Linked DNA regions of Homo sapiens: region 2 is linked to region 1. A link means that fine-mapping ties the variant in region 1 to the expression of a gene that starts in the linked region. Tissue or cell type: cerebellar hemisphere. Region 1 holds a variant in brackets; the other region holds the start of a gene. All regions are shown on one strand. Distances are between the middles of the regions.

Region 1 (14,852 bases):
ACACTTGGTGTTTTGGGGCTACAGTGATAAATATATCAGATGCAGACTCGGCCTTCAAAGGACTACCTACTCCTGAAAAGTGAGGGAGATGAGGAGGTAGGAGATGCCTGGCTAAGGGAGGAGCATGTGGAAAAGTCCAAAGGGAAAAGTTTGGGGTATAACCAGATCAGATTGGCTGGTCATGGCATAGGATACACTGAGGAATGGCAGATAATGTTGGGAGAGCCAGCTGAAGTTTTATTGTGGTGGGACTTGAGAATCTAGCTAAGGAGTGTGTGTGTGTGTGTTAGACAACCTCCAAAGGTTATGAGAATATTATCAGAACCATGCTTCTTTGCCAATTCCAATCCCTCAAGTTCAAGCTAAGGGATACAGAGTGTCTCTCAGACAGACTGTCCAGCAGGCTAGGCCGATGGCCCTAACTCACTTACATCCTCACTTCTGAGAAAGCTATGCTTAGATTTGGGTTCACATCTAGACTACAAAAGCTAAGCATAATTTGGGTTTGTCATCCAAAAAAGTGAAGAATATTATACACAAAATGCATTCTAAAGGATTAAAAAGTATAAAAATTAAACATAACAATTTGAAAATCTGAATTGACATTTATCAAATTTCTCAAAGGAAACAAACATACCAAGTTTAAAGGAAATTAAACTTAAAGAAGTCAAGGGAAAAATATTATGTTAATTTCTTCTATAGAAATGGAAAATCTATAGGTTTTAAACAAAATAACTTAAAAGGAAAACTGAGTATTAGCAACAAATTTACTAACTAAATGATTTCATAGACTGAATATACAGAATTCAGCAAGATCAATTTTTTAAAATGATCCCCCAAACATAAGTGGACAAAGAATATAAATTGACAGTTTTCAATGAGGAAAAATAAACCAAAATAAATTTTAATGTTCAATGTTATTAGTAACCTTAAGAATTGCCAATTAAAATAACACACTATTTTAACCCATCGCAGAGTAAGCACTTTCATACACTGCTTGCAGGGCTGTTCATTGATATAAATTCTCTCCCCTCCCCCATTATTATGTATTTTCCAAAATTTTACTGAAAACATCCTTTCAAGAAATCTCTATTGAACTCCTGAATCACCAAGCCAAACTTGTTATCTAGCTCCCTAGCACCCACTACTCATGCCCCCTCCCCACCCACAAACATAGATTAGCTCTGCATTCCTGCCTTGGTGTGTTGCGGGGTGAAGAAGAGTCAGGAAGCCTTACGCTGGCATAATCTGTGTCTCAGACAATATGACCACATGCCAATTTAGTGTGGAGTAGAAGAAATGGCCAGGATTTAAAGCCTGGAGACCAGAACTGGGTGGGCTTGGGAAAGTCACTTAACCTCTCTAGATCCTCAATTCTTTATTTTTTTTCAATTCAATTTAGAAATCTTTGTAATTTTCAGACATACACAAAAGAGAATAATAGCAAAATGAATCTCCAGGCACCTCACCTAGCTTCAACTGTTACCATTTTGCCAGTTTCTCCTCATCTAATCCCCTATACTTTTTTCTTTGCTAGAATGTTTTAAAGCAAACACTGGACATTATAATTGATACACATTCTTAAAAGCAATTTATAACATGTACCAAAAGCTTTTGGCTTGGAAATTCCACTGCTGGGAATCTAAGGAAATAAACAGAAATGTAGAAAATATTTTATGTGTAAGACTTTTCTAAGAGGAAAAAACTGAAAGTAACCTAAATATGCAAAAACTGGAGAAAATGCTAATAGCCTTTGGTTTTTGCCTGCTCAGTGTTCCTTCAGTTCGCATAAGCACTCTTTTCATTGCAGGAGTCCCCCTTCTACATTCTCCCAGTCTCTGTGATTCTGATGGTGCTGAGTGAACCCGCAACTCCAGGAGAAGCCACACTACTCAAGTTCGGCCAAAGAGGGCACCCCATTCCCAGACACAGTGATTATTCGGGAATGGCTAGGGCCCAGCTAGGAAGGACACATCCTCTTGGTGGTAAGATTGCTGGCTGCAATGAAAACTAACACGGCAGAAAGAGGAGCCAGGAAATGAAAGCCAAGTTCTGAATAATATAAGATCAATGAACTCTTTTTGTTTAAACAACTTTGACTTAGGTTTCTTGTCACTAGCAACAGAGTCCCAATGCAGACCATTATTTGGTGGCCTGCTTATATTGATCTGATGAAATATTCTGCAGCCATTCTCAGCCATCCTCGTGAATGGCTTCTAGGAACACGGTTGTTTATGATAAAGTGAAAGAAGCATGATACACATTCATTAAACAGCAAGATCTTGACTATGTTTAAACATCACTCCCAAGAAAACACACCCAAAATATTAGCAACCATGCTGGTTGGTGAGGTTATAAATGTCAAACTTTTTATTCTCCACATTTCCTATACAAATGTCTTACAATAAATCTTAAAGAAAAAACTGAAAAATTTACATTTTACTGATTTGTACCCCCCTTAATTCCAAAAGGAATTATAATTAAATTATAATTATCTTCTCTAATAATATTTATAGAACACTTGGTTTTGAAGTGACAGTTTGGAATTCCCCTAGGAAACACTGACCAACCAGCATTACACAAATTAGAGCATTATTTCCTCAGTACTAAAACTGAAAAACATGCTCCCTTAAAAGAAAGTAGTCTCCTTTTCAATTACTTTGTGATCTTCAGTCTAAATACTACTAAGAAGGGAACATCACACTAGCAACCTCCTCAGAATATCTGATGCATTTATTTCATTGAACTTCGTCACATTTCATAAAGATTTTTCTCCACTCCCCCACATACCTGTCAAGGACTTTGAACCTGGACTAGAACACAGAATAAACTATGATTATTGGCCATGGTTGGTAAAGACAAATGGCCTTGACCAGCTGAGTGCAGAAGGATGGTCAAGATAGCATCTGCCAAACGCAGCTGTCTGGACTCTGTAGCTTCAGGATCCTGAGCTACTCCCTCTTTCCACTTTTTTTTTTTTTTTTTTTTTTTTTTTTGAGACGGAGTCTCGCTCCATCGCCCAGGCTGGAGTGCAGTGGCGCGGTCTCAGCTCACTGCAAGCTCCGCCTCCCGGGTTCACGCCATTCTCCTGCCTCAGCCTTCCGAGTAGCTGGGACTATAGGCGCCTGCCACCACGCCCGGCTAATTTTTTGTATTTTTAGTAGAGATGGGGTTTCACCGTGTTAGCCAGGATGGTCTCGATCTCCTAATCTCGTGATCCACCTGCCTCAGCCTCCCAAGGTGCTGGGATTACAGGTGTGAGCCACCGCGCCCGGCCCCTCTTTACACTTTTATCTTTCTCTATCAGGGCCTGTCCTGCTCTCTGCACCAAGGCTGACTCCCCCTCCCCACCCCAGTCTAAGATACTCATCTCCTAGCTGTTTGAGCCCAGGGATCTGTTCTCCTTCTGCAGCAGGTGGGGTGCAAGGAGACCAGAAGCCTGATGTAGAAGCACATGGTGTGGAGGGAATGATAAACCCAGGAAAACCTAGCAGCAGCAGCAGCAGCAGCAGCAGCAGCAGCAGCAAATCAGGCCTCTGCTTCTCCTCTTGCCCCTGCTGAGCTGCATTTACTCCAGCTCCTAACCCAGAGCATTATTCCTAGGGGCTTGATTTGGCTGTGTAAGAAACCCAAACTTGCACAAAGAGTAGTCCAGTGCCCCCTAGTGGCTAACTGGAATATTAACAGTGACATATTCTGGCACATTCAATTATAAAAGAATCTGCCTGCTGTGAAACACTGGTTGACTTTACTCTGTATGATAACTAGATCTTACCTGAATGTCGATATGTATTTATGTGGTTCCAAATGCTGGAGAAAAAACTCACTAAGTGGGTAAAGGGAGAAAACCAAATAGCTGCCCTCAACCTAATTCTATCACAAGGTACACTGGCAACCAAATCCCTGAGGCAGAACCTGTGACAAAGGCTAGATCTGGCCATGCCCAGAATTTTAGGACACAATGAGCTTTTTGCCAATTAGAAAGAGTGGTATTATTCACTTCAAGTTTTGAAACAGCCAGTGACTGATTTAGGAACATGCTATTTCGACAGTAGACAATAAAACAAAGTGTAATAAATATTAATGTCTATGTTTAAGAAAACGAATCCAACACATTTCATTAAAATAATTCTTTTAATTATTGATGCTTTGAATAAGAAGTCCATTTTACTAAATTTAGTATAAATTATTTTTCTTAAACAGAACCTGTTTGCTGGATCTCAGTTAAGTTCACTTTGCAGTTTTCAGACACAATGACTCATATTCAACTTTTCTCTTTAAGGATTCAGTGGCTTGATTCCTGACATTTCCTCTTTAAGAGGAATCTTATGTCATCTTCTGAAATCATGTATATGGGTAATAATATTAGTGTCTTCTCTTCTGAAGATGTGATTCTTTTAATGCCATGTTCTCTTCCCTCTGGTGACCTGACTTAGATTGTAGCAGCACTAGAAGCTATTAAGAGATTTGGGGCAGTTGAGGAAGCCTTAGGTAATTGTTAAGAGTAGAAGTATTTTTAAAAAGCTGTGGAGAGTGGTTTGGGAGGGGATTTTGTCCCTGGCTGAAGCTGGTCCATGCCTGGGTAAACTTTACTTATAAAAGAATACCAGGAACACACAAAATATTCTTCTCCTCTTTCTTTTGCAATCCAGTTTTGGAGCCAAAAAATAATCTGTGTGCACATGTGTTTTGATAATACTGTTTCGACTTAGGTGGGGAAATTAAATTCAGGAGTTTTATGACTTTCTTTTGTTCTGAGTATCACTTTAGAGTATAAAAAGTTTTTCAAAAGTTCTTTATCAGAAATAGTTTCACCCTATGTTGAATTAACAATACCCAGGATTGTGAGACATAAATCAACGTGAGTAGGAAGCTCCATCTGAGTTTCATCATTGTTTGTCTATCTTGGCAAGATTTATTCAGAAGCACCATAATGGGGGCCAATCCTTTTGCACCAGGCTCAGGCAGCTCAGGAGGCAGCTGTGGTGAGTGATGCACTCTACCAAGCACAGTGGCTTCTAGGAATAAAGAACACATACTCAACTACCTTCAAATGCCAATGGGCAATTTAAAACTGGTACTCATTCCTCTTCAAGAGCACCACTGGAAACATCTTTGGAATTGATGGGACAAAACTTATTTGATTATAGTGAAGGATATTTCTCTACGAAAATGGCTTCAAAATAGGAAAAAAGTAGCTACCACATCTTCCAGGAAATCCAATAACAGGTCAACTCTATTGGTAAACAAGCAAGTAAACAAGCAAGCAAACAAACCAGCATGTGACAGAAAACTGGCTAATATTCTGGGACGCTTTCCAGAGAAACATTAAGCCTTTTAAGTGTGTATGAGCCACTTTAAGAAACTTCATAAGTGTTGCTAAATTCACCACAGTCTGCTTCACCTAGAAAGGGGAACAGAGAAGAATTATTTTGTTAAACTGGGTTAACAAATCTTAAAAATTAATTCATTCTAGGGAAGGACTAGATAAAATTTCTGATCTAAATTAAGATTTTCAGTTCATTTCAACCACTAGAATATACTAAATAACCACTTGGGTTTGTTAAAATGCAGACTCCTGAGTTTCGGTTTCAATAGGTTGAGGGTGGGGCCTAGGAATCCTCATTTTAGCAATAACCCTCCTCTCCAAGTATGATTCTGACACACTGATAAACGCTACTAGGATGTAGCAAGAAGCAGGCCACTGCCGTGGCTGCTGTTGTTATCTCATTTAAGAGTATCTGAAGGCTTAAAAGACAAAAATAGTTGAGAACAGAAGGGGTCCTGAACATCAGGGCAGAAGAGCAGTGATTAGCCATTGCCCAGTGATAGTGACCACAGCTGGGAGGTGAACTTTCCCCCTTTCTGCTGCCACCAACCAGGGAATCCATCTCTAGGTATCAAGACTGGGCAAGTCTGTAATCCATGACCTTTTGTTACCTGTGTGTTTGCTAGGAAATATCCGGATGTGCGCCAGAGGAGATAAAATGAGGCTTAGCACAAACATGCTGCTGCCCAGACTTAACAGTGGTCAAAAGCAATGCTTATGCTTATAAGAACTGCTTGTTGGGCGGGCGCGGTGGCTCACACCTATAATCCCAGCATTTTGGGAGGCCGAGGCGGGCAGATCACGAGGTCAGGAGATTGAGACCATCCTGGCTGACATGATGAAACCCTGCCTCTACTAAAAATACAAAAAATTAGCCAGGCGTGGTGGCAGGTGCCTGTGGTCCCAGCTGCTCAGGAGGCTGAGGCAGGAGAATGGCATGAACCCAGGAGGCAGAGCTTACAGTGAGCTGAGATCGCACCACCACACTCCAGCCTGAGCAACAGAGTGAGACTCCATCTCAAAAAAAAAAAAAAGAACTGCTTATTCCAGGGTGCCAGCAAATGCTTCGTGTAGACATTTAAGCCTTCCACTGATCATGCAAACATGCTCATGGGGGCTTCACCCAACAGTCCAATGAGGCAAACCACATTCAGTTAAGCTCCGTATCAGCTCTCACAAGTGGCAGTCTCCATCTGTGTGAAACAGATTTCAGATGCAGAGGGCTTCGTGGTATTTGGAGGAATAATACCTTCCAAAACCGATCTGGGCAAGCCAAGCAAGGTGGCTGCCAATGTGGGGAAGCTCCAGAACGCCTGTGAGGCCCCTGTGGGTGGTTCTCCAAGAAGATGGGGGCCCTGGTCCTCACAGATATCACTGTACACTCCCCGGACTATTAAACAGCTCTGGTGGCAAACCTGGCGGGTGGGATTAGTGGGGGCACTCCTAGACTCGGAGATGGACAATTCCTAGCCAGAGGCACCCGGTCAGAGCGGGCAGCTTTCAGGCCCTGCCCATCCCTCGGGTTCTGGTGCACTGCCTCAGAAGAGTCACATCTGCTCTAGCCTTTGGGCCGCCTCTCAGGACAAGGGAAAAATGTTCTATCTCTGTGCTGCAGAGAAGTGCTCCTTTGTCAGCATAATAAAGTGGGAACCTCAAAAGTATCTGTTTTACTCACTTATTCAGTGTGGAGACTTATGGGAAAACAGTTTTATTTTGTTATTAAACCAGGCACTGCCTTTGGGCATGTTATTTATATAAAGATAACTGCGCTTTAGAGATTATGTCCTGTGAAAGTAAACTTTAACTTCGAAGAGCAGGCCCTTCTTAACAGTCATCCTGATAATTTGTTGCCAGGGAATAAAGTTGTAATTGCTACCTCTATATTCCTATGAAGTCAGATGGCTTTGCCAGCCCAGAAGACGACCAGTGGCCCGTGCCTCTCCTGCATGCACAGCAGCAAAACAAGCGCCAGGACTGTGGGATTCTTTATTCCAACAGAGTGTGAGAGTGTTTGTCTCAAGTAATGAGCCAGACAATCATTCCTAAACACCTGCTCTATGACACACACTGTCCTAGGCCCTGCTTGGAATTAAAAAAAATTAGAAACAAAACAAAACTGAGATTTCCAATCATGGTAGGGAGTCAATAGTTCAACACGGAATTGTTCTACAATTGAAAAAGACAGAGATTAAATAAATGCTAAGAATTTAAGCCCTCAAATGACCTACAACCTACAAGTCTACCTTAGTTATCATCACCGTAATCTCCTGAAACAGCAGTCAATCATTACAAGCAGAAAGTGCATTATAAATTACACTGAGCTAGGAGCCTGGCCAGCTACCAGTGAGGCAGCCAGAGGAGAAGTACAGCATCATGGATAGAAGTCAGGTGATGGCTCTGGAGCAAGAATGCCTGGGTTTGAGTCCCAGCACCACCACTTCCTGGCTGCAAGAACAAACAGTTTAGGCCAGTTTGTTCTCTGTGCATCAGCTTTCCATTTCACACATGTGGAAAAACAGCACCTACCTGTTGCGGTGGAAGGTTGCGCAAGAAAGGGATGTGGTGAGAACTGAATGAGTTAATACATGAAAAGTAGCCAGTATAGCACCCAGCCAGTAATAAACAATGGACACTAGCTGTTATTGTTACTGTTCTTATCACCTCCCCAGATATGCCAGAATTCCCTGTGTCACCTGGGAGAAGCACCAGTCCCTTGTATTCCCTCATTTGAACCCTTAGCTAACTCCAAAGACTCCAGTTACACTCTTCTTTCCTTTCCCTTTCTGTCTTCAGGTCCTGGGCTTTATTTTCTCCCATGGCCTCTTTTATCTCAGCCTCCTCCCTTCCATGCACTTCTTAGTGGGATAAACCACACATCCCCATAGGCATTTGTAGTACTGGGGCTGATGGGATGGGGTTACTTGCTCAGACTCAGATGAAGGGCATTCACAGTCCAGGAGCACCTGAGTCTAAGCCTCATGAGAAAATGCCATCGTGGGTCATAACTGGGCTCTGTTCAGGGCCCAATAAGCACAGCCTTAAAATGGAGTCTCAACCTGGTGTCCAGGCCTGTAGACAGAGTTCAGGGGTCTGCGAACTTGGCTCAAAAAAATTTTTTTTTCATTTTCATTAGGCTCTAACTGAATGTATCATTTCCTTCAATAATGAATGTAGGGAATAAACCACAGGGTGACAGCCTATCTGTGACTGTCTCCAACAGAAATAGAGAAATCACAGATACGTTCATATCATGTCACAGGTGTTGCAGATGTCTTAAAATATTGTCTTCAATCCTCACTACTTTAAAAGCACAGAAAAGGCCAGGCATGGTCGCTCATGCCTGTAATCCTAGCACTTTGGGAGGCTGAGGCAGGCAGACTGCCTGAGCTCAGGAGTTCGACACCACCCTCTTTATGAAAATACAAAAAATCAGCTGGGTGTGGTGGTCTATGCCTGTATTCCCAGCTGCTTGGGAGGCTTGAGGCATAAGAATCGTTTGAACCCAGTAGGTGGAGGCTGCAATGAGCTGAGATGGTGCCACTGCACTCAGCCTGGGTGACAGAGTAAGACTCTGTCTTGAAAAAAAAAGAAAAAGTAATAGACTTATTACTAGATCTTATATTTAATATATTAATAAAACGATTATACCACACATTTACAAATATTTTCATAAATGTATTTCATTATAGTTGATTTTCTTCTTAATCCTCTGTATTTTATGTGTTTAAAACATTATTCTGAGAAGGGGTCAGCGGCTTTACCAGACTGCCCAGGGTGTCCAGGGCACATGAAACGGTTAAACCCCCCT[T/C]GCCTTAGAAGGCTGAGGATGGCTGTAAGGGCGGCAATCTTAGGTGAAAGATGTGTAAGTACTTACTGAACTGTGACATTATAATATTCTTCTGGTGTCACGATTTTTGGTCCACCAAAGTAGTCCAGGACCCAGATATTGGTTATATTCAACTTAGCAAAGAACCAATTATGGCTGGAAGGCCAGGTTTTCATCTCAGGGTGTCGAATGAATAACGAATGCTTTGCAATATCCATTTCTGTTTCATTCACCTAAAGGACATATATGAAATAAACATTCTTATGGCAGTAACACTTTATCTTCTCATTTGTTAAGAATGTGTGATTAGGCCGGGTGCAGTGGTTCACGCCTGTAATCCCAGCACTTTGGAAGGCCAAGGCGGGCGGATCACGAGGTCAGGAGACTCAGACCATCTTGGCTAACACGGTGAAACCCCATCTCTACTAAAAAAAAAAAAATTAGCCAGATGTGGTGGTGGGCACCTGTAGTCCCAGCTACTCAGGAGGCTGAGGCAGGAAAATGGCATGAACCCGGGAGGCGGAGCTTGCGGTGAGCCGAGATCGTGCCACTGCACTCCAGCCTGCATGACAGAGCAAGACTCCATCTCAAAAAAAAAAAAGAATGTGTGACTCTAGCATTCTATAAATCCTAAGAGTTTACTTACTTGTAAATCTTGATCTTAACCTTAAGGAATCAAGAGAAAATAAAGGAAATGTAAAGAATGCAGAGAATAAAGATTTCAATTGTTGGTAATAACAGATACCACGAAGTGGGAAACCACTGTAAGTATAATACCAACTTTCATTGGTAAAAAGGCATTTTGAGCTATTAGAATAACTAGCACTAAGTACTGTAACATTACTGGTGCCTAAGACATGTAATGTTTAGCATATTTATCCCATAACATGGACATGTTAAACATACAGATGAATGTACTGAAGGATAAAAATGTTTAGAAACCACATAACAGAACTCAAAAGCATGTGCTGCTCCTCCATCTTTTTCCTGCCAGTGAAGGACACTCAACTACAGAGATGCATCCACAAAGAATTTACAGACCATAAATAACACTTGTCTGAGGCATTAATGATTGACACGGTCAAAAAGCAAATCTGCTGGCTGGGTAATCAGATCAGCACTCCTGACACCATGCCCACTGCTCTTCCTGAGATTGTATTTGACCTCTTCCCTTCAGCAGGTGATCCAAACTAAATTCACTTCCAGTTTTCAGTAATGGATAGTCCTCTGGTTGGCCTACTTAATATGTTTTCTCTGCTTTAAGCCACTGTTAAAATATGGAGACAAGGAGCCCAGACATGGAAAAACATTATACCAATGTAAAATGTAATGGAGAGTAGAGGGCTTTGGTCAACCAGATGCTCTTTAGTAAGAATAACTTTATATACAGGAGCTTCATAGTTGTTACATCTGCTTGGCTTCAGAAAATCATTCATTTTTGTCATATCTTATTTAACACCTATATGAAAGCAACTTATTAAAACGTTTGGTTTTCATGGAATTACTTCACCTATTAGAATAGAACATGTTCTGACTGGGCATGGCAATCACAAATCAACTGCATTTCATTCTGAAAAGATCTATTCTGCCAGGCATAGTGGCTCACGCCTGTAATCTCAGCACTTTGGGAGGTCGAGGTGGGTGGATCACTTGAGGTCAGGAGTTCAAGACCAGCCTGGCCAACATGGTGAAACCCCATCTCTACTAAAAATACAAAAATTAGCTGGGTGTGGTGGTGCGTGCCTGTAATCCCAGCTACTAGGGAGGCTGAGGCACAAGACTCGCTTGAACCCAGGAGGCAGAGGTTGCAGTAAGCCGAGATCACACCACTGCACTCCAGCCTGGGAGACAGAGTGAGACTCTGTCTCAAAAGAAAAATGATCTATTCTTTCATTGTGAATACGATGGTGTTCTGAAACCATCTCCCTTCCTGTAGGATAACTACTTACCTTGGTCACAGTTCCTGACAGCATTATGTGAACACAAAGGGGACTTTGTGGATCAAATCCATGTTTCTTGCAGAAGTTGGTCTGTGCCAAAGTCATGGTCAGTGTAGCATATGGATTCTCCTATAGAGAGAAAATGAAGATCCTCTCATGTGAAATATGGTTTCTGGAGAGGTAATAAATTTCAAAAGTTGCATACATGATGTCCCTAGAGCTTGACTGGTCTTCCACGAAACAATGAATCATAAAACATCACCTTCCACTCAGGGGAAAATAATACTTGGAAAGTATCCTGACCACTCCCCAAAGGGGGTGCGGGGGTTCATATTTAAAATGAACTGACTTGGTAAAAATTATTTCAATATTCTTTTTCTGAAACCCTGAATTTATTCCATATTCATCAGAAGAATTATAATTATAGTGACACCCAAATTCAAGGCTGTTCTATAGGCTTCACTGAAAGATTTAAAGGGTTAAACTCTATACAAAACCATTGCTAAAAACACCACAGTTGCTCAATTGGCTAACTACGCGATTTAAGCAAGAAAGTAGCTGAATCATGCTACTTGGTTATCTTACATTAGCAGAAACTGTCATGTGATTTCAAAACTGGAGAAGTTGTTCATTCCTGCTTTAGTAACAATGAGTTTTATCCCACATTCAAAAAGTAACACAAGTAAAATTCTTAATGCTTTCTTATTCAGAAATCAACTTCATAAAAGGCACTGTTGACAGATTATAGCAAAATTCACACATCGCATTTTAGACTATTTAGCTCTTTAAGCTCTAAGTGCCTTGTGTGGAGAATTTTGCCATTTCACACTGACCCATCAAAACAAAGAGTCATAAAGAGATTTCTTTGAAATCATTTAGCCAAATAGTCACTGTCTAGAAACTATTAGGCAAGGCACCACAGGAGACCAAAGAAGGGGAGGGGGACACTCAGGTAAACTCTCTCCCTCCGTGAGTTTATAATCTGGTTGAAAAGGCAGACATAAACAAATGTGTATGTCCAGCATAGACCAGAGTGATAGAGGAACTGTAAGGAGCTTTATAATATATTCAAAACCAGGATAGAAGGTGGGAGGACATATTAAAGGGAGAGGAGACACTGACTGCAAAAAACACAGAACTGGGTGAGCCTAAGACTTGATGAACAGTACCAAGAAACCTGATTTGCTGGAAAGAAGGGCTTTCCTACGGGAGGAGCCTGGGGTTGGGAGTGGAGAGGGCTCCAACCTAAGTTAAGGAGTCTAGATTGTAATTTGTGGGCCAACCTTAGGCACTGTTTTCTAAGAACCACCTGCCTGGAGAGCTTGATAAAATGCTGATTTGGGTTAAAATGTTGAAACAGGCTTCACTCCCAACCCAAATAACTGCAATTTTTTTTTGTTTTTTTTTTTTGAGACGGAGTCTTGCTCTGTCACCCAGGCTGGAGTGCAGTGGTGCGATCTCAGCTCACTGCAACCTCCAACTCCCAAGTTCAAGCGATTCTCTTGCCTCAGCCTCCCGAGTAGCTGGGATTACTGGTGTGTGCCACCACGCCCAGCTGATTTTTGTATTTTTAGTAGAGACTGGGTTTCATCATGTTGGCCAAGCTGGTCTTGAACTCCTGACCTTGTGATCCACCCACCTCGGCCTCCCAAAGTGCTGGGATTACAGGCGTGAGACACCGCACCTGGCCTGCAATATTTTTTTTAAGACAGTGTCTCACTCTGTCACCCAGGCAGCCACCCAGTGCAGTGGCACAATCATGGCTCATTGTGGCCTCAACCTCCAGGGCTCATGTGATCCTCCCATCTCATCCTCCTGAGTAGCTGGAACTATAGATGTGCATCACCACACCCGGCTAATATTTTTTTATTTTTTGTAGACATGGAGTTTCACTGTGTTGCCCTGGCTGGTCTCAAAATCCTAGACTCAAGTGATCCTCCCACCTCGGCCTTCCAAAGTGTTGGGATTACAGGCATGAGCCACCAAGCTGTCCTCTATCTGCATTTTATTATTTAGAAACAGAATCAAGCTCTGTCACCCAGGCTGGAGTGCAATGGCGTGATCTCAGCTCACTGCAACCTCTGCCTCCCAGGCTCAACTGATGCTCTCAACTCAGCCTCCCAAATAGCTGGGACTACGGTCGTACACCACCATACCCAGTTAATTTTTGTATTTTTAGTAGAGGTGGGTTTCACCATATTGGCCAGGCTGGTCTCAAACTCCTGACCTCAGGTGATCCGCTCACCTCGACCTCCCAAAGTGCTGGGATTACAGGCTGGAGCCTCCGCACCCGCCTCTATATGCATTTTAAACAAACATCCCAGGTAGCTCTTACGCAGCTATAGGCAGCTGGGTATTGTTAAAGGTTTCTGGCCAGAGGGCAATGCTGTGACAGGTATTTTTGTTAATCTATTTGGGTAGGCAAGGTGGATGGGGCAGACAGGAAGACTATGTAAGAGCTGTTCTAGTACTTTTAGGCATGAGATGATAAGCTTAAGGATGAGGTGGCAGGAATGAAGAGGAAGGGGCAAGGACAGAGGTAAAGAAGGCAACAAAAAACTGTCAGGACTTGGGAACTGAGGGATTTGGGGAGGCAGTGAGAACCAACTGGGTTTACTGAGAAAACAATAATTCCACTAACAGAAATGCAGAAGATCAAAAGCAGCTTGTTTCAGGAGGAAGAAGGACTGGATTTAAACATGTTGAATTTGAAGTGGTGGCAAAGTAACGAAGCAAAAATGAACAGCAAGCAGAAATATAGAGAACTTTGAAGAGGTCAGAAATGGACACACATCTGGAAGTGAGTCCTAGTAAGGACTAGAAGAGAATGTATACAACGAGAGTGTATACAATCTTCTGAGGATCGCTGCAGGGAACAAAAGAGTAGGAAACTGACTTTGAGGGATACTTATTTTAGTGGGTCAGAGAAAAAAAACCAAGAGTGACCAGAACAGAAAGGGGCACATCACAAGAAAAGAATGCCAAAATGGAAGGGAGGCTAATAGTAAGAGGTCTTGGTGCAAATAATCAAACCCCAAGATTTCCCTTCAGACTCACTGGCTCTGCAGCCAAACACGGTCCCACTATAAGCTAACATCAGCAACACTGTCCTACAGACATTTACTATACAAAAATGCCACAAAGAAAGAGACATACAAAAGAAACAGCCCAGTGGTAAGTACGTTTGAAGCTCACAACATATCTCTAAGTTACAGAGGACAGGTATTTTACACATGAGAAATGGTCCCAAACCTAGGTCTTTTTGTTCCTTCTGAACGATTTCACCCCCTGTCAATGAGAAGAAATGCAGAGCACCCTGGAGGTCAGGAGGAGGAAAAGAAAAAAGCAGAAACTTTGACCTGCTAATTGATGGAATCAAGTCAGACAAATTCTAATGTGGCCACTTCTTTTCACTGCCATCATGGAAACCTAAAGCCCTGGGTAGGTTCCTTGCCACTGCCCTGTCTATTTCTAGAAACATGAAAGACCTGGGCTAATGTCCTACCTGACAGCCATTAGCTGACTGGTCACAGGGTAAGTCCCTGCACCTCTGAGTCTGTGTTTCCTCACTTCCTAAATGGGGACAATAATACCAGCAACTCCCTAGTCACCTCACAAATTTAAATATGATTATGTATTGGTCAATCTCCCTCCTCCCCCATTAGAATCATCAGGGAGTGGTTTGTGGGGAGGCGGGAAGGGGTGTTGTCTTAAAATAAAATGTGCTTTCAATAAAATACCTTGGCATCCCATTTTT
Region 2 (15,642 bases), 22 kb before region 1:
TCTGACCTATATAAGGTCCTAAGCCTTAGATAAATAAGGCTTGGGAGAAACGATTCCCAAAGTGCGTGTTTGGACAACTCTAATCTAAGAGAGTTCCCTCAGGGCAACTGGACCCTTCTAAGTAAAGCACAAGACACAATGCTGGGTAACTTTTGACTGGAAAAGTATATATCCAACAATAATTACATGTATTTTTTTAAAGAACAAAAGCAAAAATACAAAGAATTTAAAATTAAATACAGCAGTGGTTATTCACCTAAGCCAGAGCTCCCCAGGACCGTTTCTGGGGGATGCTTAGCAGAAGCAGATGTGATCTCTAGGCTAGTAAGCCTGAGAAACGCTAAAATTGAAAAATGAAATAGCTCATTTGGATGAGCAGAGCTAGGCGATTGGAGGGCGAAACAATCTGATGGTGAAAATGCCATTGATGAAAAATTTGTACTGGTATCACTTAAAAGCTTGCCTCACATTCACCTCCCAGCAATTTTAGCAAAGATTTAGTGTTCAAGAAGTTTGCATTTAGATACTCAGTCGCTGTGCACCCACAATAGCCCTTTGGCTTCAGAATCTAGGTGGCCACCCGGACCAGTGATGACTGGGTGGATTTTGTTTCTGATTCCTTTCAAAGTAATACTTTGAAAAACTTTTGTCTATGAGCCTTATCTAAGATAGCTAAAATGTCAGTCTCCACAGAGGCAAAGTAAGTGGCACTGAGAAGTAAAAAAATCCAGCCAATCCCCCTGCCCCCTATTTGTGGAAATGGGGCACAGCCCCCATCTTGCATATATTTTTTCAGACATGTTTTTACTTCGGGAGAATATTCCCCTACAGAGTAAGTATCTTTAAAAAATGAAAATGGTGGATGTAACAGTCATCCTATGACCAGCCAGAGCTTTGCTGCTTTTTCACTATCGGGCCTACCTCTGCAATCATTGTTATGTTTCTGTGCTGGTATGGGTGTGCCCAGAAATCAGAAGAGGGATGAGTTGGATTGCAACAGATGGAGAAAATGCCCACTGCTGCTTTATAACATATTGAAAGCAAATGAAGAATCCCAGCCATGGGTTTCCATCTCCTGTTTTGAGAACAAGAAGACAGTCCGAGATGTAATAATAGTAATAGTAAATACAATGTTTACTTATTGGCTGTCTACTATGTATTGGACACATTACATTACTTCTCATTGTCACATCTCTGCAAAGAAGGTATTACAAGTCTTTCTTTAGAGGTGAGAAAACTGAGGCCCAGAGAGGTTAAGTAACTTGCCTAAGGTTGCACAGCTAGGAAGCGGCAGCACTGGGACACCACCTGAAATTAGCCTGGCTCTTTCTACCACGTCCAGCCACCTTCCTAAAAGCAGAGCCACTCACAAGCCTGGAAGCTTTGCATTCCCCAAGGCTGCATGTCAGAGCTCCATCTCCTCACTGATAAAAGACAAACACCACACTGACCGCTGGGTGCATTCTTGGCTACTGCAGAGTAGGGAGTTAGAGGCACTGAGGGCTCTGCAGGCACAAGTGTGCCCATGCCACTAGGCACGCCATCTTAGGATCTTCTGGCCTCAAGCCCTGGTGACTGTCTTGGTAGATTCTCTCTCAGGGAGGCCTCCTCATGTGGACAGACCAGGTCATCATTTGCTTTGATCCTAATAATCTGGGCATTTCCAAAGAAATGCAAATGCAACAGCTTAGTAAAAAGTAGACATTTTAAAAGGGATGTATGCAATGGGTCACTTAACTGAGCAAGAAAAGAGAGAAGACCTGACTGAAATTCTATGTGCGGCCTTTCCTCCGGGGAGACTGTGGAGGTGTCCCCTCAGGCAGCAAAAGCACCATCGCAGCCCTCGGTGTCAAGGCCTCTCTGAGTCGCGCTTTGCCTTACCGTACCTCGTTTCTGGGCTAGGATATTTTGAAACACTTTTGTCTATTAGCTTTATCTAAAATAGCTAAAATATCAGTCTCCATAGAGGCAAAGTAAGTGGCACTGAGAAGCAAAAAATCCAGCCAATGTGCAGTTTTCTCCTCCTGCCCCCTATTTGTGGAAATGAGGCACGGCCCCCATCTTGTCTGCTGGGTGGGGTTCTGTTTACCACGCTTGGCAGCCACCGCCACCCAACAATCTTTCATTTTTCTTTCTAACTTCACTTTGCCCCTACCTTGGTCTCTCCAAGCCGAACACAAATGGACCAGTGAGGAAACTGCAGGTAAAGACCCTGAAAGGTTATATGAGCTCCCTGGTGTGGTGTCTCAAGCCTGAAGCTCAGAGGCTGGAGCTATTGCCCCTGGCTGTCTCCCCTGAAGTCACTAAATTCCAGCGTTCTGGGTCCCCTTGTCCCCAGCACACAAGGATGGGCTGCTCTGAGCAAGCTCAGGCACCCTCACTCTGCCACACTGTGTGTGTGACTTAGACCCCACAAGGCTTTTCTGAGAAAACAGCTGTGACCTGACAGAAACCCCTGCAGCTGCACGGGCCTCAGAATCCCCCGAGGCGCTGGCCCGGGCTGTGCCTGGCTCCCTGGTGGGAGCAGAAGTGCCCATGGCCTCTCCTGCCCTCCCAACAGGGCCCCTAAACAAATTCCCACACCCAGGTGAGTTACCAGGAGCGATCAGGTGGGCCGAGGACATTTGCTTGCTTCACCTTCCCTGTTTCTTTAGATTGAAATTCAGCCTGCCCCACTTCTCAGGAAGATGCCACGAGGCTGATCCCCCTGAGCAGTTTGTCCTGTCCTCTTTTCACTGGTTTTCTTCCTCATTACCTGGGCTAGAAAACATGGTGGAAGCTAAAGGCTTGCAGCAAAGCTGGGCTCCCACGATCGGGAATGAGGTGAGGAGCAAGCACTCTTGTTGGCTGGGCGCTGCTCGTGGTGGTGACTTAACCAGGCACATCGTCTCATCTGCCCCGTGTTCTGTCAATGCCGGGCCCTCTGGCTGGGCTAGATGGCCGCCTAAGGGGCAGGCTGGGGTGAGTCACGGAGCCTGGGATGGTGCGTCACCCGGCAGTCCCAGGCGTGGGTGTGGGGACAGCCATGACAAGGCTGAGCCTAGACACGGACGCTTGGCCATGAGGTGGCGAAGGCGCTGTGGAGGCTGCCACCCGGTGCTTCCTGCCTGTGCCCCTCTCCTCCTTGGTTACCCCACTTACTCCCGGGCCCATTGGAGTGTTTCAGGCCATGACCTTGACTGACCAACAAAATCTTCTTTGTTGGCAAAGGAAGAAAGAAAGGGGCTGAGTGACGGAGCCAGCCAGAGGGTGAAAGAAGCTGAAGGGACTAGAACGTCGCAGCACGAAACATGGCCTGGCTGACATTTTCCGATCCTGTCCAGCTTCTGTGAAACACTCCCTCTCCGTTTCTCTACCCTGGGCCTGCCTCGGTTGCTCTCTTGCTTCCTTCTTCCTTCCTCTCTTATCACTCGAAAAATCTGTACCTGGAGGAGCTGTGTATTCTAGCAGCTGGCTCTGAACTGATGCCCAACTCGGCTGTGACGGAGCAGATGCCAGCACCGGGCCGGACCCCTCACTGCTCACTTGCCCATTGATTTGAGGAGGGCAGGATTTGAAGGAGACCCCAGCCCCTCACCACCCTCCACTACCCACACCCACTCCCCTACACATACACAAAGAGTTTCTAGAAGTTCCCTGCCGTCGACACGTCGGCCCTACCTGTAATCGGCAACTGTGCCTGCAGGATGGCCGCGGTGAAAAGCGCCTTCCACTTCATCTTGTCCTTTCCCTCAGAAAGAGGCTGGGAGGCAGAGGCTGAGGCAGCGGTGGCCGGGACGGTTAGGAGAAAAGGAGTCTCTGCTGGTTTTATTCTGCAGCTACCTCCCCAGGAAGTGGAGGACTGTGGGGCCTTTGAGAAAGCACCTGCCGACAGGGCCAAGAAATTCGCACTCCCCCTTTCGGTTCACAGGCAGGAAGCCCTGGAGGTTTGAGGGTTTGGGGTGTGTGTATGTATCTGTCTGTCTGAATTTTGCTTTTTCTCTCATTTGACCATTGTTTTAATGCTCCTTTTTTTAAAAAAAATAATTCTTATCTAATTCCTATCTTGATTGGTAAAGTCCATCTCTAGGCAAATACAAGTTCTCGATGGATGTAAGAACATTTGCTGTTTTCCTAGACTGTCAAATATTTTATGGTGGCTGGCAAAATGACAGAACCCTGGATTAGAGTCCAGGACAAATGTAGAGACAGATTCCTTGGGCTTTAGTGACATCTCTGCCTACCACCTACTTGCTGTGTGGCGTTGAGTCAGTCACTCAACATCTCTAGACTTCAGCTTCCTTATCTATAAAGCAAAGAGCTGGAGTAGATCTGAGGTTGCAGATCTGAACTTGGCCTGAATTTGGATCATTGTGTGAAATACTGTAGCTCACATAGTATTTTAAACACTTGTGTTAGTTGTCAACATTTAAACACCAGAGTAATTTACAATAATAAAACATTAAAACCTAGACATAAACTTCGTCTAAAAATTGTAATATATCTATATGAAACAAACTTTAAAACATTGCTGAAGAACGCCGAAAGGACTTGGGTAAATGGAAAGGCATACCCTTCTTTGATAGGAAGCTCTCTTTTAAGGAGACCACCATTCTCTCTTAATTAATCAATCTATTTCATTGAAAATACCAACAAAAAGTTTTAGAACAAGTTAAGCTGATTCCAAAATTGATATGAAAAAAATTAATGTACAAGAATAGCCAATAATCCAAAGTCACAGCAATCCAACATAAAATTGATAAATTGGACTTCATCACAATTAAAAGTTTTTGTGCATCAAAGGACACTATGAAGAAAGTGAGTCCTGCAAATCACCGCATACCTCTAAGTGATGGAAACAGCATTCCCATCATCAGACTTGGTACCTACTCAGAGCCTAAATTGACCCCTAAGGGGGCCGATGACTTACTCAAGGCCACACAGCAAGTAGGTGGTAGGTAGAGATGTCACTACAGCCCAAGTAGTCTGTCTCTACATTTAGTCTGAGTCTTCATCAGTGAAGGTTGTCATTGGTCTGGGGTGCTGACACACTGATGAAGCCTACATATACCAAAATGAAGACACAGCTGGGGAGGCCATCAGGGGGAAAATAGCAGAAGGAAAGGTGCAGAGGAAGGATATCTTCTACTGTGGAAAACTGTGGGCTACAAATCACAACCCAGAGCTGGTCTGCCCGAGCCTAGAGAGGATGCTCAAGGTCCTCCAGCTAGATTGTGTGGATCTTTACATCACTGAAATACCCATGGCCGCTAAGCCAGAAGACAAAATCTACCCTATAGGTGAGAATGGCAAATGGTTATATCACAAGTCAAATCTGTGTGCCACTTGGGAGACTTCGGAAGCTTGTAAAGATGCTGGCTTGGTGAAATCCCTCGGAGTATCCAGTTTTAACAGCAGGCCAGCTGGAGCTCATCCAGAACAACCCAGGACTCAAACCCAAGCCAGTCAGCAACGAGGTTGAGTGCCACCCATATTACACCCAACCAAAACTTTTGAAATTTCGCCAACAACATGACATTGTCATGATTGCATATAGCCCTTTGGGGACCACTAGGAATCCAACCTGGACAAATATGTCTTCTCTGCCTTCGTTAAAGGATGCACTTCTAAAAAGGTGCAATAAGATCACAGCTCAAGTTATTTTGCGTTTCAACATCCAGCAAGGGGTGGTTGTCATTCCTAAAAGCTTTAATCCTGAAAAGATCAAGGAAAACCTTCAGGCCTTTGACTTTTCTCTCACTGAATCAAGGACATTGAAGCCTGGAGTGAAAATGTCCGCTTCATAGAAATGCTCATGTGGTGTGATCATCCCAAATACCCATTTCTTGATGAATACTGACTTCAGAGAGTTCCTGAACAGATTCTCCCCTCCCACGTGTGGAGGACCTTAGGGTGCATAGTTCCCCATGGACACGGAAATGAAAGAGGTTTTATTATCTGAAAAGTGGTGATGGAAACATGCTTAACTTTTGTATAGTGTAAGTGATTTTAACTCACCCATGTTAAAGACAAAATGTTTAAATCTGTTGAAATTCTTAGGAAATTATCACCTAATATTTTATTAGATAAATGTCTTCTGGGTTCCAGACCAAAAACAAAACAAAACAAACAAACAAACAAAAAACAATTAGATTCCAGAAAAGACTTGAAAGGCAACAGATGACAACCAGCAACAAGTAACTCATGAATGTGGGTAGTAACATTGTTAGCCTGAGTTCTTTAGCAGTCAACAGGACAACAAAGACAGCAGAGGGCCCCCATGTGCCAGGGTGCTGGCAGTGGCCTTGAGGACTTGAACCATTGACTGCAATACAGACACAGCCAAGATAAGATCCAGACATGCATTATTAACAAAAAAGTGATTTGCTGCACCTTGAGTAGGGAGAGAGGGCTAAGTGTAGAAAAGTCTTAAAATAGAGTCAATTAAACACCACAGTGATCAACAAAGCCATAAGGATTTTATTGTTGTTTGTTTCTATCCGATGTATGTTTGTTTAGCTTTTACTCAGCTTGAAGGATGCATACTTGCTGGTTCTCTTTTGCATCCTCAGAGGGTCTGAGTTTCAACATAACTAGTGGTCCATACTTACATTGTCTTATATTCACTCTTGCCACATTGATCATCGAATCACCATTACGTGAAGTGGCTTGAAACAACCAACATACATAAATAAAACTCTGCATCATAAAGTATTCCAAAGACGGCTATTTTAAAACAAGACATTTTATAAGGGGACTTTAGGAGACATATTGAAAGAAGAGGCTTTATAAAAGTACTATGCTTAAGTCTTTAAGAGTGTTATTGGGATAGCTATGTGAATTTTGAGAAAATAGCACGTTCAAAAGAACACTGGTAATTGTACTCTATGTAAATTTTTAAAGAGAATAAAATTATTAGAATTCAACAACAGAGATGTACCTATTTTCAGTTCAACTACAGAAATATATTTTATTCATTCATATTAGATCACTCTCACAGGGCAAGAGAGTTCTTCAAAAATTATGCTTTTCCAAGACCAATTGCTTATAGATAATCTTCAATGACCTGTACACATACATTTCTGAGAAAGTATCACTTAAAAACTTGATCTATACTGATTGTTTTCACTGATTCCGATGTTAATACTTACAATGCTTGTCCTCTAGACAATACTTTGTTCACAAGAAATCATGAAATATGATGACAAAGAAAGACAAAAGAAAGAACGAAGAAAGTGAAAAGACAACCCAACCCACAGAATGAAAGAAAACATTTGTAAATATACTGATAAGGGTCTAGGATTCAGAATATATAAATAACCCCTATGACTCAACAATAAAAAACATAACCCAATTAAAAATTGGCCAAAGATGTAAATAGACATTTCTCCAAAGAAGACATACAAATGGCCAATTAGCACATGAAAAGATGTACAACATCATTAGTCATTAGGGAAATACAAATCAAAACGACAGTGAGATACCACTTCTCACCCACTAGGATAGCTAAAATAAGAAAACAGACAATACAAGTGTTGATAAGGATGTGGAGAAACTGGAATTCTCATACATTTTTGTGGGTTATATAAATGGTGAAGCCCTTGTGAAAAATAATTTGGCAGTTCCTCAAAAAGTTAAACATAGTATCATGTGACCCAGCAATTCTATTCCTAGATATATACCCAAGAGAATCGGAAACCTAGGCTCACACAAAAACTTGTAAAGGAATGTTCATAGCAGCATTATTCACAGTGGCCCTAAACTGGAAACAATTCGAATGGCCACAACTAGGAATGGATAAGCAAATGCGCCGTATCCAAACAATGAAATATGACTCAGCCATCAAAAAGAATGAAGCACTGTTACATGCTGCAACTGGGATGACCCTTGAAAACATTATGCTAAGCGGAAGAAGCCAGGCACAAAAGGTTACATAGTGTATGATTCCATTTATATAAAATGTCCAGAATAAACAAATTCATAGAGATAGAAAGCAGGTTAGTAGTTGCCAGGGGATGGGGAGAGTGGGGAATTGGGACTGTCAATAGCTATGAGGGTTCCTTTGAGATGATGAACATGTTCTAGAATTGGACAGTGGTGATGGTGTGCAACAGAGTGAATATACTAAAAACCATTGAAGTATGCACTTTAAAATGACACATTTTATGTTATATGAATTATATCTCAATACAAAAATAATGCTAAAACAAACACAAGAATAGTTAGGAAAATTCTTGCAAAGAAGAGTAAAGAGAGTGAAATAACCCTGCCAGATATCAAACAATAAAAGGGGTGTAATTATCATACAGTACTTAGGGTACTATAGACTTAAACATATATGGTCAATTGGTTTTCAATAAAGGTACAAGAAAAATTCAGCAGGAAATGGTAGTCTTTTCAACAAATGGTGGTAGAACAACTGGATATCCACATGGAAAAAAAATTGACCCTCGGTTCATACCATACACAAAAATTATCTAAAATGGTTCATAGACCTAAATGTAAAACCCAAAACTATAAAATTTCTGGAATAAAACATAGGAGAAAAATATTTGTGATAGAACACAAAAAGTAAAAACCATAAAAGAAAAAATTGGTAAACTGGACTTTATCAAAATTAAAAGTTTTTGCTTTGTTCATTGAAAGACAGCAGTAGGAAAATGAAAAAGAAGCCATAGACTAGGAGAAATTATGTCCAAACACATACATCAGACAGAGGACTTATATCCAGAATATGTAAAGAACTATTTTAACTCAATAGTAAAGTAATCAACTCAATAAGAAAATGGGCACAAAGTTTGAATAGACAATTCCCAAAAGAAGATAAATGAATGGCCAATAAGCAAGTGAAAAGATGCTAAACATCATTAGTAATTAAAGAAAAACAAATTAAAACCACAATGAGATACTACTACATACCTGTTAGTATGGCTAAAATTAAATAACTGGTCGTTATCAAGTGTTGCCCAGGATATGAAAGAACTGAAACTCTCATACGCGGATGGGGGAAATGTAAAATGGTACAACAATTTCTGAAAGATCTGGCGGTTTCTTTAGAAAGTTAAACATACACTCACCATATGATCCAGCCATTGCACTCATGTATCTAACCAAGAGAAAAAAAAAAATATATATATATATATATATGTCCATATAAAGATTTGTACATCAACACTCATGGCAGCTTTATTTGTAATAAACTACTGGAAAACTACCCAAATATTTATCAACAAATGAATGGATAAACTAATTATGGTATATCCATTCAATGAAATAATACTGAACAATAAAAAGAAATAAACTGCTAGTGCACACAACATGGCTGAATCTCAAAATCAATATACTGAGTGAAAGAGGCCAGGCAAAAAGAGTACATATTGAAAGATTCTACTTACAGGAAATTCTACAAAATCTGAATTAATCTGTTGTAACAGATTTCAAACCACAAACTAAGAAAGGTACTTGCAGCACTGTGACAAAGGGCTTAGTTCCTTAATACATAAAGAGCACCTAAACATTATTCAGTTTTAGCAAATAATTTTCAAGTGTCCACCAGGTGCCAAGCATGGTACTATACACTGAAGATATAACTGGGAGTTAAATAGACAAAATCCTTGCCCTCGTGAAATGTTCAAGCTGACGGGAGTCTAAAACAACGTTAAAAAAATGAGAAAAGGACTTGAACAGAGAGTTCATGGGAAAAAAAAGTAACACATAGCTGTCAAATGAATGAAAGATTACCAAAATCACTCATAGTAGGAAAAAATCGAAATTAAAATTACAATGAATACATATCAGATTGCTATCAGCTTCTCCACTGGGTTCCGTCTTCCTTTGCTTCCCAAGGAAATTGCCCCAGATATTCTCTTTTTTCTCTCCTGCATGTCAGTATTTTCCTCTAAATTGGATCATTCCTATCTGTATACAAGCATGTTATTTCTCTCATCTTAAAAAACTCAAAGACTTATATAGCATTTGCACATTGGAACTTGCCATATTTCTTATCGCTTTGGGAATCCAGTCTCCACACTAAGAAGCCTGTATTAACCCGCTGGAGACACGTGGCACAGCTGACAGCCAGCGCTGACTTCCAGACAAGTAAGGCTCTCTTACATCATCCAGACCCAGCTGAACCAACAGAGGACTGCAGCCACGTGGGTGACACCAGATGAGACCGGACAAAGCACTGCCTGAGTCCAGCCTAAGTTGCTGGCCGACAGAATCATGAACTAAAACGGTTGTCGTTCTAAGCCACTGAGTTTGGGAGGATTGTGACATACCAAATGATAACAAAATACTCAATATCCCCATATCAATCTCAGGAATTGCCCTAATTGGCCCACCTTGGGCCATATGCCCACTTTTTGGATAAACCAGTGCTTCCAGGGGGTCAAGACGAGATTGGAGCTGGAAAACTCTGGTTTACAGCCTTAGCAGAATCATTCGTAATAGAAGAAATGAGGGGAAAGGATTCTGGGCATATATAGAACAATGACTGTCCACGACAGCCAGCCTTGCCCTGGTGTGTGCAGTGGGATGGGGTTGGCAACTAGAACGAGGCTCACGCTTTGCAGAGGGGCACACAGGCAAGGCCCAGAGCTGGAGCTGAGAGGAAGCTGGATAGAACATGATGACCTGCAGCTGTGAGTTTCTCATGGTGGAAGCTCTGGCTCTTCCTCATGATTGAATCCCTGCTTCCTGATATATTTTGGTGGGTGGGTAGATGGATAGATGGATAGATGCATGCATGCATGGTTGGATGGATGGATGGTTGGGCGACTCAGTGAGTGAGTGGCTAGATGGATGAATGAGTAGGAGGGTGGCTGGTAACATTCAGGATGGCAGGAAGTCCAATACTATGTAGGAGGATGCCCCAACTTCCTCTCAGGAAGAGCACAGTAAGGGAAACCCAGAAGCTGGTGAATGGAGATTTTAGCTGGAAAAGTTGTCATTGTCATTACAGAGAAGGGCCCCTGCCATTGAGGGGCTGACTGGAAAATTGGGTAGCGTAAAGAAAATGTAAAGACAAGGTATGGGGGAAGGGACTGGGGCTCAGGACTGGGACTGAACTGATGGAAGCCAAATGGCTACAGCTACAAGCAGGAACAATTTAAAGTGTAGGGCCAAGCAGAATATAAGCAGCCATGTGGTAAGAGGAAGATGCTGGTGCTAAATAAATTCTCATAATTCTCCAAATAAGTAATGCTGGTGAAGTAATTATTTTAACTTGTCCAGCATCTTTCCCCTCCCTTTTTTGGAAGCAACCTCGTTTCCCTTGGAGGGGAGCGCATATTCCCTCAACGGAGTGGGATGTATGCCGCTGGCTGGCTCCCGGTGTGGGCATGGACCCTGTGACAGCCAATCAGGCATCATATCCTTCTGTCTACAAAGACCGGCTCAGGGAGGGCCCATGAGAGCCATTTTCAAGATTCTTGCTGGAACTCCAGGGAAAGGGGCACCATTTTCCCGTAGAGAATGGTGACCGTGGGGTAGTGCAGCCTGCAGCAGTGGAGGCCGTCTATTTCCCACCGGGAGAGAGCCTGACGGGATGAGGCCAACAAGAGGGAAGCAGAGCCCAGAGACAGGAAGAGAAGGATGGTTCCCATTTTGCCCCCTTGTCAGTCACAGGAGCCAATAAATACCCCTTTTTGCTCTTTGGGTCGATTCATCAGAATTTAGTGGGAAAGCTTTGTCTGCACCTAGAGGAGAGGTTGTTCTGAGGCGCCAACGTGCTTCAGGTGAGCTGGGTCTCTTCCCACAACCACTTGCTCCCAAGGGGCCCTCCCAGGATTCAGATTTCCCTGGGGTTCTTTCTCTACAACAGCTCCTTCTAGGCAACAGGGACTCGGCACTGAGCCTCGCAATTCCCTGGCTCCTGATCATCAGAGAAAACAGCACAAAAAAGAGGATTGGTCTCTGTCCCTTGGGGTGTCCAGAGACAGCCTCTCCCAAGACCCCTGTGAGGGGAAGCACTTCCCTAGCCCTTGAGACCCCAGCATGTTGACCCAGGCCCTGTGCCTCCCTTCAGCTGACTGGTCCAGGGCTGGCAAGCAGCTGGAGGCCCACACAGGCTATTCCCTCACAAAGTGCATTTCTGCTGGCAGGATCCCAGCCAAACACCTCGGTGGAGCCTTGTCTCTTCAGCCTCAACCCGAGGTTTCCCCAGTCATAGCCTGTGTATGAGCCCCTCCTTTTGTGACCGCAAGCCTTGGCTCACAGGAATCCTTTTGCCTGAAGGCCCTTCTCTCCTTTCCCCAACCCAGGAGCTTGGTCTCGGACAAGGTGTAAATATCCCTTCACTGTGAAGCCTGGCTCACACCTACTAAACCTATTAGCTATGTCCATCGCATATTGTTTAGTGCTGTGTTAAAAAACACTTGTCACTTTTTGCCTTGGTTATTTGTTTACACAGATGTTCACACAATGATAATCCAAGCTCTTCAAGAGCATGGACGGAGTTTTATTCATTTTGTAATCTTTAGTGTCCAGTACATAGTTGGTATTTAATTTGAGAGAGAGAGAGAGAGAAAGAAAGAGAGAGAGAGAGAGACCAGACCATTCCTGACCCGAAAACCAGATGGGGTAGAGAGCAGCAGGAAACAAAATTTAAATGCTCTCTGGGAAGTTCAGTCCCCGGGGTTAGAGACCATGTCTTAGGCAATTTGAATGGCCAGAACTGAATGCAGTGCCTGGAACATAAAAGGTGCTCCGTTAAAATTTACTGAAGGAATGAGGGGGCATGACCCCAACTACTGTTATCGAGAGGGGAATGAGGGGAATGGGTTTGCAGAAAGGGCCAAGCATCCCTTTAGTGACAATCCCAGGTAGAATCTGCCTTCTAAGATGCTACATTTGGGCCAAGCATGGCCCCCTCCCACCACCACCTGCACACAGATCCACATCTTATGGCTCTGATGGACTCCTTGGGCTCCATGACTCTTTCATGTCTGACCAAAGCTGGAGGAGAGGGCAGAGCCTAAAGAGCCTAAAGGAGCCCCCACCGGCTGGGAGTAGAGGCTGAGGAAACTGACATATCAGTAACTGCTGGTCCTTTTTTTTTTTTTTTTTTTTTTTTTTTTTGAGACAGGGTCTTACTCTGTCACCCCAGGCTGGAGTGCAGTGGCATGATCACAGCTCACTGCAGCCTCGACCTCCTGGGCTCAAACGATCCTTCCACCTCAGCTTCCTGAGTAGCTAGGATCACAGGTGTGTACTGCAACACCCAGCTAACTTTTTCTGCTGTATTTTTTGTAAAGACATGGTTTCACCATGTTGCCTGGGCTGGTCTTGAACTCTTGAGCTCCAGTGATCGACCTGCCTCAGCCTTCCAAAGCGCTGGGATTACAGGTGTGAGCCACCACGCCCAGCACCAGTCTTTATCTGAGCTGAATTTGGCTGACTTTGAGTGTGGCCCAGGATATGACTGCATATAGAATGTAATTTCAGTGGATTTCTGATCCCTAAAACACACCCTCTCCACTCACCTACTAATATCCACCCAAAAATACATGCTTAGAGAGTCACTCTTTTGGCTAAAATTATAATAATGGTGTGTGGGAGCTGGCTGATATCAGCACATGAGAGCCAACTGTTAAATTTTCAGGAATTTTCCCAGTTGGTTGTTAAATCATTGGTAACTTGAAATTGGCTGTGGTGGGGGCAGACATTATACATGAAAGTTCATTCTGTATGCCCCAGCACACCACTGACTAAACACTTTTCTTCCATTCAGAAGCAAATGCCCTTGAGAGATATATAAAGCCTTATCAGTTATTTATACCTTTGTGTTAAATACTGAGTCACAGACCATTGTCCCAGTTAGATGGGGACTGGAAATCATTAATCTAACCTTTATTTAGTAAATGAGAGAATTGAGACCCAGAAAGGTAACATGACTTACTGAAGATATAGAATTAGCTAGTTTCAGAGTCCAGACTGCAACTGAAGTGCTCTGATTCTCAGTAAACGGGATGCCATAATAGACATTATATGCTTATATTTACACCCAGCATCCCTTCCTCCCCCCAACCCCCATATTAACCCTGGCCAGACCATGCAGTACAAGTGGAGCTAACCCCTAGCCTGTCTGCGCTCAGGGATGGTCACATGACTAAACCTGCTCCATTAGAGTATTCTGTCTTCCTCGCCATTGTAACTGATTAGGGGAAGAACATATTAATGCAGGGATGTTTTTGTAGGCCTGGCATCAAGACCCCCATCTTCTAGCAATAGTATCAATTTTGCTTTGAAGAGTCAACTATTCTCCACGATTATAATCTCTTTTTTTTTTTTTTTAATGGAATCTCTCTCTGTCGCCCAGGCTGGAGTGCAGTGGTGCAATCTCGGCTCACTGCAATCTCCACCTCCCAGGTTCAAGCAATTCTCTGCCTCAGCCTCCTGAGTAGCTGGGATTACAGGTGCCTGCCACCACTCCCAGCTAATTTTTATATTTTTAGTAGAGACGGGGTTTCATCATATTGGTCAGGCTGGTCTCGAACTCCTGACTTCAGGTGATCTGCCTGCCTTGGCCTCCCAAAGTGCTGGGATTACAGGCGTGAGCCACCGTGCCGGCCGATTATAATCGCTTGATGAGGCTATCAGGTAATGTCAATCAGCTGCTTTCTCCCCGGACTTTAAATCTTAACAGAATGAAACAAGACCTGGACATAACCCTTGTTTGTTTCTCCTTCTTGGATCCATCCCAGAAGTTGCTCATATTCTGTGGCTACACGAACACTGTTCCAGCCAATTTCCTTTTTTGCTTAAGCTATCCAGAGCTGATTTTTGTTGCTTGCAACCAAAGGATCCTGACTTACACAGTAGAATTTTTGGAAGTTGTATTAGCTTTCTATTGCTGCATAACAAACTATCACAAATGTAGTGGCTTAAAACAACACATTTATGATCTTACAGTAATGTAGGTCAGAAGTCCTGATATAGCATGGCTGAGTTCTCTGCTCAGGTACTTACAAGGCTGAAATCAGTGTTGGCTGGGGCTGCAGTTCTCATTTGAGGCTCAGGGTCTTCTTCCAGGCTCATTGGTTGTTGGTAAATTTTATTTCCTCTCAGTTATAGGAGTGAGTTCCTGTTTTCCTGCTAATGATTGGCCAGGGAATGCTCTCAGGTCCCAGAAAACACCTGCAGTTCCTTGCCAGGTGGCCCCCATAGGCAGTTCACAATGTGGATGTTTGCTTGCTTCTGGCCCAAACACAGAGCATCTCTCTGACTTAGTCTTCTGGAACCAGCTGGAGAAAACTCTGATTTTAGAGGATATGCCTGATCAGGTCAGGCCCACCCAGAACACTCTCCCTTTGCCACATAAAACCGCAAAAGCACAGGAGTGATAGCTCATCGTATTCACAGGTTCTTCTTACGATCACGAAGATTGTACCATGGCGTGTCAATCTTGGAGGCCACCTTAGGATCCCATTTCTCACAGAAATGCTGTTCAAAAAGATGCTCCCTTCTTCCTCTGGGAAGATCAGACACGCCTGGTGTTCATCTTTTTCACCAGATGGAAGAAGCTTGCCTGGGAATGAAGCCAACACAGAGAACAGCTGAGCAAGAGACATAAAGACAGGCAGAGCATTTGCTGCATTGTTGAGAACCTGGATCGTGCCATGCCTAGCTGCCTGTCCCAGGGGCTTTTCCATCTCACGAGCC

Direction of the effects. Alleles are on the strand shown, and positions count from the first base shown. SD is a standard deviation of normalised expression in the study named.
As copies of C replace T in region 1, the expression in cerebellar hemisphere of the gene that starts at base 3,782 in region 2 goes up (small effect, 0.37 SD a copy in GTEx).

Evidence for each region. PIP is the estimated chance that this variant, and not a neighbour inherited with it, causes the effect.
Region 2: CD247 starts here. The variant in region 1 is fine-mapped to the expression of CD247 in cerebellar hemisphere (GTEx, PIP above 0.99). The same link has a PIP of 0.9 or more in cerebral cortex and prefrontal cortex.

The regions. Positions count from the first base shown.
Region 1 is chr1:167,536,898-167,551,749 of GRCh38, forward strand. It overlaps CREG1 (cellular repressor of E1A stimulated genes 1), which reads right to left. Exons shown (of 4, transcript NM_003851.3): 2 at 11,105-11,224; 3 at 9,204-9,388; 4 at 4,116-5,404. The coding sequence ends at 5,401. Among named protein-coding and RNA genes, the nearest start is that of CREG1, 9.4 kb to the right of the region's middle. RefSeq lists enhancers at 3,105-3,605, 11,608-11,752 and a cis regulatory region at 11,671-11,688. The variant T/C (reference allele first, on the strand shown) is at 9,138.
Region 2 is chr1:167,514,748-167,530,389 of GRCh38, forward strand. It overlaps CD247 (CD247 molecule), which reads right to left and starts at 3,782. Exons shown (of 8, transcript NM_198053.3): 1 at 3,661-3,782. The coding sequence starts at 3,718. It overlaps LOC107985224 (a long non-coding RNA gene), which reads right to left. Exons shown (of 2, transcript XR_001738279.2): 2 at 14,792-15,508. It also overlaps the pseudogene AKR1D1P1. RefSeq lists enhancers at 2,179-3,142, 2,414-3,613.